Homo sapiens: one gene and its partners. The protein of the gene in region 3 interacts with the protein of the main gene of each other region in a pairwise test. Each region holds a gene or a part of one and is shown on either strand. Other genes may lie near its edges. The genes, in order: PGCKA1, EPAS1 and EIF3E.

Region 1 (2,752 bases), on a different chromosome or scaffold from region 3:
TCATTAATGCTTTTTACCACAGGCCCTGCTTCTTTCTACGATTCCTGCTAATTTAATTTCTGTGATTACTTTTCAACCTAGATAAGTATGTCTAAATCAAATAGATATAGTTGGTATAAAAATGTTTGGTGGCTCACGCCTGTAATCTCAGCAATTTGGGTGGCCAAGGCGGGTGGATCACTTGAGGTCAGGAGTTCGAGACCAGCCTGACCGACATGGTGAAACCCCATCTTTACTAAAAATACAAAAATTAGCTGGGTGAGGTGGTAGGCACCTGTAATCCCAGCTACTCGGGAGGCTGAGATAGGAGAATCGCTTGAACCTGGGAGGCGGAGGCTGCAGTGAGCTGAGATCACGCCCCTGCACTCCAGCCTGGATGACAGAGCGAGACAGTCTTGAAAAAGATAAACAAGGTTCTGCCTGAAATACTCTTAAGAAGAGAGCCAAAAGGAGGAAGGAGGGGTAAGGGGTGAAGTAAAATACAAAGTGGTTCATAGAATTTTAAAATAAAAAACAAATAAAACAAATGTCCACTAACAGGGCCATAAGGAGTATATCCTCTCAGTGGAATATTATGCAGTCACTAAAATGATAAATATGAAGTCTGTAGTCACAGGAATGATACTTACAATACATAGTTTTTGAATAAAGCCAAACATCACAGTATGATTACAGTGGAATACAGCTTATTTATATATAGGTCTAGAATAGAACTATGATTAAAAAGACAGTATATTTGTTAAGAAAGCAAGATCATCAGTTACCCTTTTTCTTAGTTAGAAGTTTATGTTCACGTTACTCACAATTTTCTGAAATGCAATGTGGACAAAATTAAAAGCACATATGTGATTGGGGTGATTTATTTTCAGCGATGCCATTTCAGGCATCCTCAGAAACCCAGACCAAATTCAGCCTCAGAAAATGATGGTGTTCCCAACATGCTTTGAGAAGTGAGCAAAAAAAGTTAAAAAAATCTAGGGCACATGTTCTTTTAAATGATATTATAACAATTCCAAACTCTTAATGTGTTGGCAATGTTGATCATGCCCCAAGCTGGATAAATGCACTGAATACACGCATGGTCTTTAAAAGTGACCCCACGCTCATCACAAATTCCTCCATTTAGAAGTAGTATTTCTCCAGCTTTACCTTTGTATTATTTTACAGCACCTGCACCCCATCTGGATTGTTTTCTGTTACCACCTGGAAAAGAAAGCGTAAAAGGTAGAGAACACAGTGAGTGATATATTAGTAGGAATTAAGTTTGCCTTTTTTTTTCCCTAGAGACTCAAAATGTATTAAGAGAGTCACACATTTTGGCAAAAGGATAACTACCACGTGGGTCAGAGAGGGTGCTGGTTACCAGGAATACCCCATTTCCATCACCGCTTCAGAGTTCTCAAACGTTCACTGACACTTGCCTCTGTGTCAGACCTTTCTCCCAACCCTGGGGTTATGTGTTTCATCCCCATTTTGCAGATGAGGAGAAGAAGGTGGAAGGATGCTAGACAGAGAAGGGACTTCTGCTTTTCTAATCTGTTACCTTCTACAGAGGACACAGGAACCTCACCAGGGCACGGCCCACTGCACGCAGCAGCAGGAGGGGAAGGAGATTCTGACGGATTCCTTGCCAGGGCATTTGCTCCTCAAGAGTTAAAGGATGCCGGAATAAGCTGGCGGATCCATTGTGTCCCATGATTCAGGCCCTGAGGAGCGTGATAGCCCGAGTCATCGCACAAGCTTCAACCACACTAAATTGATTCTGTGTTGCTTTTCCTACCGCTGGGCCAATCTCAGCTATGATTTGTGGACCTGTTCTTTTGCAGCTCAAAGACATGCCCCCTTGGGCTTCCTGGCAGAAGGTGGACTCATTTCCCACTTGCCCACTGTTCCCTGACCCCTCCCCAAGCTGGGCTTTTCCCCATCATTTCCTTTGGAACAAAATCTTCTCTTCATATAAAACTGACCATGTTGGCCTCTTCCTTCCTCAGAACATCCTAAAAATGAGTATGGAAGCATCTCTTAGATATTATTCATTTCTAATATCTACAGCCTTTATTTTTATTTATTATTTTTTTTTGAGACACAGTCTCACTCTGTCGCCCAGGCTGGAGTGCAGTGGCGCAATCTCGGCTCACTGCAACCTCTGCCTCCCAGGTTCAAGCGATTCTCCTGCCTCAGCCTCCCAAGTAGCTGGGTTTACAGGCGGGTGCCACCATGCCTGGCTAATCTTTGTATTTTTAGTAGAGACAGGGTTTTGCCACGTTGGCCATGCTGGTCTCAAACTCCTGACCTCAAGTGATCTGCCTGCCTTGGCCTCTCAAAGGTCTGGGATTACAGGCATGAGCCACTGTGACGGGCCTACAGCCTTTAAAAAGACAAGCCAAAACAGAATCTGCATCCCCAGTCTCCCTGTCTCCATGAAGCACATGCACCAGAAAGAGACATCATTCATTGCTGGCTGTGTCTCTGTCTCCCATGTTGTCCCTCCTTCCTTCTTTCAATCATAGGTGAATTTCCAGGGATGCTGCTTCATAAGCTTTTGTCCACAGTGAATATGACTGGTGCTTTTTAAGAAGTACAGATTGGTTGCTTAGTTAAAAGGGACTAGATTTACATTAAAAAAATAAAATCCACAAATAACTCCCTATGGTAGGCTGAAAAATGGCCCCCAAAGATATCCACATCCTAATCCCTGGAACCTATAAATAATACCTTATATGCCACCCCAGCCCCCAAATTAAAGGTATTT
Region 2 (3,660 bases), on a different chromosome or scaffold from region 3:
AGGATTTAGACACAGACAAGTGGGATTCAGCTGGCACTCTTCATTACTTTGTTTTACAAAAAGTGGAAAATGGTTCTGAATCGGGAGGCTGTTTGGCAACTATAAGGAAGTAAGCTATATTGCTGGTCTTGGTGATTTAATTTTTGCTGAGAGAGAGGATATGATCCAGGTTGAGTTAATCCATAAAGTGGACTTGCTCACCAAGTCCACTGTAAGGAGATTCGTACCAGAGTTCTCTCTAGAGCCTTGATACATATGTCACTTCAGGGACAAAGCTAATGGCATGGTATCCTGAACACAGCTATTGCAGTTTGCAAATGGGGTACAGGAGGGGTTAAATTCCTCCTGAGAGACAGGTTATAAAGGAAAGACGGGAGTGTCGGAGAGACATTTCTAACCTGTGAGGAAGGCTTACACCCTTGGAGTAACTGTGGCCTCACTCAGACTGTCCCTTGGAATTTCTGCGAGAAGACCTGGGCCTGCCCCAGGAAAGGGTGGCTGAGTTAGTGGCTGATAGGCAGTCGTTGTGTCGCTGCTCTGAAGGCACCACTGACCATGTTCCAGATGCAATGGGAAATCAAATGATGGAGCAGCTCCTCCCTTGTGGGAGTTTATGCTCCAGTTGAGGAGATAAGCTTGAGAGTGGGAACCATTAGTTCACAGGCCATGATGGAGCTCAGTGTTGATGGCAGACCACAGGTGCTAAGAGAGCAGATATTTGGAAAATATAAACAATAGGCTGCCAAGAAAAACTGCAGCTGGGCCCCTCTCATGAATATCCATATAAAACTGACTTCAGCTGGTTCTTCCCATCCTTCCACATCCAGGCTCTGGTTTTGGGAAAAAAAGCAAAGACATGTCCACAGAGCGGGACTTCTTCATGAGGATGAAGTGCACGGTCACCAACAGAGGCCGTACTGTCAACCTCAAGTCAGCCACCTGGAAGGTAGGGCAACATCAGGCCTGGGTTGGAGTCCCAGGTGTAGGGTAACGGCGGTGCAGGGGATGCCTAAGGCCCTACCCCCACCCCCAGCACTCTCGGCTCCATGTCTGACCCTTCCACGCCTGTCTCAGGTCTTGCACTGCACGGGCCAGGTGAAAGTCTACAACAACTGCCCTCCTCACAATAGTCTGTGTGGCTACAAGGAGCCCCTGCTGTCCTGCCTCATCATCATGTGTGAACCAATCCAGCACCCATCCCACATGGACATCCCCCTGGATAGCAAGACCTTCCTGAGCCGCCACAGCATGGACATGAAGTTCACCTACTGTGATGACAGGTAGGGGGCCATGGGTGTGTATGCTGTGGGCAGAGATGGGTCTTACCTGTGTGTGTGGGGAGTTGTGCCTGTATTAAAGGTGTGGAACTGAACATAGACGTGGTATTGCCGGGTGCATGTTCGTGGACCTGTGCCACTGTTTCATTGCATCAGTGCCCCTCAGAGGTTCCCGGTACTGTATTTGGTGGTCTCCCATTGACAGAGCCTCAGGGTCCATCTGCAGAGCTTTCCTGGTGTGCAACTCTTCTCATCATTGTGGTGTGAACATATTTCTCCATACGTGTATCAGGCTCCTGAGGAAATTCTCAAGGCAGTCTTCTGCCCCAGGAGAAAGAGTCTAGAGACTTCCATCTGTACTCCTGCTTCAGAGGCCAGTAAGGAGCATCAGCTTCTGCCCTGGAGACTGACCCTCTTCCATTACTGACTGAGCCTTTCCCTCCGCCTTGTTCCTTCCTGCATGCAACTCCATTCCGGCCAGTGTCCAGCCATTTTGAAGAAGATGAAGGTAGCTGAGCCAGATGCTAACCCCCCAGTGCCAGGCCCAGTGTCTCTTAGGAGACACAGTAGTGATTAAGAGCATGGGCTTCAGGACTAGATGGCTTAGGTTCAAATTTAGTAATAAATGTTCAGTGTTAGCTCTTATTATCACCTTTATTAGAGTTGTTGAAAGAGTGCCTAAGACTGCTTAGGCATGTCATGCCATCTCGGGTTCTTAGCTCATTTAGAAGATTGAAGCAGGTGGGGAAGAGACTGGGGTTGTCATAGGAGGGAGTATTTAGATACCCTACAGCTCCTAACTCCCCCACCAGCCCTGCCTCTGGGACTGTGGAGCCTGATGATGGGAGGTAGGAGGAGGAAGATGGGGAGAACAGATGCCCGGAGCAATGGCCGGCCCCAGGGAGGGAAGGAAATGCAGAAGACTGGGCCCAGGGTAGGCCTGGCTTGAGTAAGCGCCACTGGGGCTTGCTGAGCAGCACCCCCCGCATGCGCCCTTCCTGGCAGAGATCTCCCTGCCTGACCTCAGCTTTCTGCAGCATCTAGAGCCGCCATGTGTCCCAGGGTGACAGTTCCTGTGGCAGCTCTTTGCCACCCCCAACTCTTTGCCACTCTTCTCTCATCTTCTAGGGTTTCTCCTCAGGAAACCCTCAGATCTCAGTTTCCCCTTCTCCAAAATAGAGATAACACTTTCTAACCTGTTTCATGGGGTCACTGTAAAATGAGATAATGGCTGTGCAAGCACTTTGAGAAGTCCAGACACCACAACACATGTGAGGCTTCTTGTTATTGCTTATATCTTACTTCCTGTCCTTGGCCTCCTCCAAAGCAAAATCTTCCACTAAACTCAAGGAGCTGAAACCACTTCTGAAGGCAGTTAGTGGCTGGGGGGCAGGAAGAGGAAGAATCTGACCCCCAGATCAGCAAGAATCTGCCTTGTCTTCCTCAGCTAGCAGGAAACCATGGAACCCCAGGAAAAAAAGCTCCTGCTCAGCCTCCCCTAGGCCTACCCACTTTTCTCTTATCAGCTGGACATCCCAAGGGCATCTGGTTTCTTCATGGGAGGGACCCTCCTCTCCAGGATGGGGTTTCTCTCCTCTGATTCCAGACCGGCCTGGTGTTGGTTGGTCGCCCCTTCTTAGAGTTGGCCACCACTTGTGGCACAATTTCAGAACTTTTGTAAAAGTATCCTTGAGTCATTCCTGTCCTTCAGTTCTGACCACAGTAGGGCCAGGATTCACAGCCTTTGGAGCTAGTGGGTAGTTATATAAGTAGAAAGAAATGCTCTAACCTCATAGGGAGAAAATGTCATGCATGAAGCCTTCCGTCCTGGAACTTCGACACAGTCACCATTTATTGTAATTGTTAGTGGTGGTGGTGGTGGTGGTGGTAGTGGTGGTGGTGGTGGTGGTGGTGGTGGTGGTGGTGGTGGTGATAATGATGGTGGTTCAAGAAGAAGATTGCACTTTTAGTGACAGGCACTGCAGGAATCCATGTTATAGGTAAGGTTATTTATCAGATGCAGTCTTTGTATTCAGGTGAACATTCTGGGCAGAAGACACAGCTTTGTGTACCTCAGTAGTCTTGTGAGATAACATGGACAATCCCACTGCATAGCCCCTGTGTCACTGGCTTTGAGGTGAAGTGGCTCAAGCCGACGTAGCCATATAGCCTGGGAGCATATATAGTGCTGGGGATGATGAAAGTCAGATACGTGCTTCACCCTGGTGAATGAAGCACATCCGTAACATAACTCCATAAGCACTGGGAAAACCCTACTGTCCTAGAAAATAACTTGGCATCCCTACATAATAGAAAAGAGATTTTTTTTAAGCTTAAGATTTTGATCCTTGTTACAGTGAGAAGAAATCCTCTGGAAGGGGTA
Region 3 (3,162 bases):
AAATGCAGAATATGTTACCCTACCCTCAAGGATTTTACAGTCCAGTTGGTGAATGGAATAGGTCGTGCATAGTACAAGTCAATAGGCACAAGCACATGAACAAATCAGACAGTAGGGGTCATGGTATATAAGAGAAGGGTGATCCAGAAATACCAAAAAGTATCTATGCAGAGTGTGAGTCAACACTGTGTACATAAAACTAAGTTTTTAGGCCCAGTTAATTAACATTGCTGTTTTTACTTTTTCATTAGCATGTTGGCAGATAAATTGAACATGACTCCAGAAGAAGCTGAAAGGTGGATTGTAAATTTGATTAGAAATGCAAGACTGGATGCCAAGATTGATTCTAAATTAGTGAGTATTATGTTAGCTATGCTACATACTATCAGTTCCTGATTATACTTTTGGGAATTCTTAACTAGGACATTTTATTACCTCCTTTAATAATTTATTTTGTTTTAATGTAAAACAGTTCTTTGAAGGCAACAGAAGCCTCCTATTTTTTTTCTTCCTTGGTAAATATTGTCATCTCTATACAGTGCATTAAAATATGCGCAAAGGTATGTCATGCTTTTTACTTACCTGAGAAACTCAGTCATTAACATTATAGGATCAATTTCCCTGTGTTTCCTTTTAGGGTCATGTGGTTATGGGTAACAATGCAGTCTCACCCTATCAGCAAGTGATTGAAAAGACCAAAAGCCTTTCCTTTAGAAGCCAGATGTTGGCCATGAATATTGAGAAGAAACTTAATCAGAATAGCAGGTCAGAGGTAAGAACCACACATCTTCTATTCTGTCTGGGGTTTAGCAACCATGTAATTGTTACATGAAGTTTCAAAGTGTATTGATGAGTTGTAGCTGATTTTGTTTTTCTCTTTAAAGATATGAACATTTTTAAGAAATTACTAAACAGAAAATTTTTTCTTAGATGTATTATATGCATTAAACATAGAAACTGAAAAAGAAATTGTGTTCCTAGTTTATTATAACTATTTTTCTTTTGCTTTGACTCTTCCTGTGTGACTTCATTAACTCATTTCCTCAGGGTTTTCAACACATCATTTTGATACTGGCAGATGATAACTTACATGTGTAGCCCTCTTTCAAGTGTTCGAAATGTGTATTCTTTCTAAATCTAAAGAAATAATTCTGTAAAAATGTTGATCTTATTATATGTATTAGTGCTGATCTTATACAAATTTCATTATCTTTCATCTGATATTCATATCAAAAATTAATCTCCCATTTTGATAGAGATCCTGCATGTTAGAGATTGAAGAAACTTGAATGGCCTTATAATTTTGGAATCCTAAACTGTGTTGTTTAGACATTATGATTATGTGTAACTGGAGGGTAGGAAGTCATTAGGAAGCAGTTGTGGGATATGCAGAGACCCCATTTGATTGAAATTTTAGGAACAAATTTGTGTCCGCAGAATAATCCTTTAGTTCAAATGAGAAGGATGCATTAGAATTCAAGTTGCATATTTTAGCCAAGTTTAGAATAACTGAGCCTAGAAAGTAACTTTCATATGATGTTTTTTTCTGTATGCTTTAGGATTAATTTGTATCATTTATTGTTCCAGTATTAATGATACTGTTATTGCTATATATTTTAATTGGCCAAAAGCTATACCAGATAATAATTTTGGTGTTTGTTTTGTCCTGAGTGGGACATCTGACATCTAGTAATTGCAGGAGTTAAGATCTTAGAATGGTTTGGCAAGAGACTATAGTGCTGAAGTAAATGCTGTGTTACTTTCTTCTATGTTAGTTTTTTTCCGAAAGTATTTTCTTTTCACGGTGTTGATTTCTTTTTGCATATTTTAGGCTCCTAACTGGGCAACTCAAGATTCTGGCTTCTACTGAAGAACCATAAAGAAAAGATGAAAAAAAAAACTATCAAAGAAAGATGAAATAATAAAACTATTATATAAAGGGTGACTTACATTTTGGAAACAACATATTACGTATAAATTTTGAAGAATTGGAATAAAATTGATTCATTTTATCTTGCTGTCAGTTTTCTTGCATGTGCAAGTTTGTGTTTTTTTAACTTTCTTTTTTGGAATAATTATATTCAGAGGAATTTGCAAAAATAGTACAGAGAAGTCCCTGTAGGCTGAACCCTGTTTCCCTCAATTTTTTCACTTTGTCTTACTATGGTACAGTATCAAAACCAGGATGTTGACATTGGTACAATGTGTGTACAAATAGCTCCCTACCATTTTATCACGTGTAGATTTGTGTAACCATCACTGCAGCCAAGATAGAGAACTATCATCATGATCTCCCTCATGCTACCTTTTTGTAGCCATACCTACTCCCAACCAACTCTAACCCTAGGAACCACTAATCTGTTCCTCATCGCTATATTTTGTCATTATGAGAATGTTATATAAATGGAATTACATAATACACAACCTTTGAGATTAGCTTTTTTCATTCATCACAATGCTCTTGAGAGCCATCCAAGTTGAGAGATAGATATATATATATATATGATCAGTAGTTAATTCCTTTTTTATTGCCAAATAGTATTCCATGGTATTGATGTGCCACGTGGTTTAACTGGTATTGATGTGCCATGTGGTTTAACCATGTACCTATTGAAGGATATTTTAGTTGTTTCCAGTTTGGTACTATTACAAATAAAACTGTTGTTCCTTAATTTCTTAAAAGTGGCTCCTCAGTCACTCACTGTATAGTTACGGAGACTAGGCATATAAGTTGAATTTTATAAGTGTCAAATGTTAAATACAGACATACTGTTTACTGGATACTGGAGGTATTTAAGAGCTACAGAGCCCTCACTGGGTCCCTTTTTTACATAGAAGTGGCTTGATTTTTCACTTTGGTTGAACTGACAGCCAGTCAGATAACAGAAACTTGTTGCTGCTCTCAAGGAGGAGGTTCAAAGATAAAAAGGTACATACTGTTCTTTTATTTGACATCTGATCAGGCCACCTTCCATACTCAGTTTAGAGACTACGGTAGTTAGGTTGCATCTGCCATTCAAAGAGCATGGAGACCTCCCAATACTAAACAGCATGGGGGTCTACAAACTTTTTTTTGTAAAAGGTCAGATATTAAATCTTAGGCTTTGCAGGCAGTATGTTCTCTGTTTTAGGTATTCAACTCTGTCATGTAGCACAAAAGCA

Evidence for each region.
Region 1: the proteins of EIF3E (region 3) and PGCKA1 interact in binary tests that used the Homo sapiens proteins (3 or more experiments, as listed by UniProt).
Region 2: the proteins of EIF3E (region 3) and EPAS1 interact in binary tests that used the Homo sapiens proteins (3 or more experiments, as listed by UniProt).

Annotation. Positions count from the first base shown.
Region 1 is NC_000004.12:37,587,297-37,590,048, reverse strand, and holds part of PGCKA1 (PDCD10 and GCKIII kinases-associated protein 1), read right to left. Parts: exon of another isoform or gene 1,204-2,752; 5' UTR 1,182-1,203; coding exon 1,150-1,181; intron 1-1,149. UniProt on the Homo sapiens protein: Acts as a tumor suppressor. Acts as a tumor suppressor for colorectal cancer cell proliferation by targeting KEAP1/USP17/ELK1/CDK6 axis.
Region 2 is NC_000002.12:46,359,811-46,363,470, forward strand, and holds part of EPAS1 (endothelial PAS domain-containing protein 1), read left to right. Parts: intron 1-827; coding exon 828-946; intron 947-1,074; coding exon 1,075-1,280; intron 1,281-3,660.
Region 3 is NC_000008.11:108,200,593-108,203,754, reverse strand, and holds the end of EIF3E (eukaryotic translation initiation factor 3 subunit E), read left to right. Parts: intron 1-251; coding exon 252-354; intron 355-637; coding exon 638-772; intron 773-1,831; coding exon 1,832-1,870; 3' UTR 1,871-2,539; downstream 2,540-3,162. UniProt on the Homo sapiens protein: Component of the eukaryotic translation initiation factor 3 (eIF-3) complex, which is required for several steps in the initiation of protein synthesis.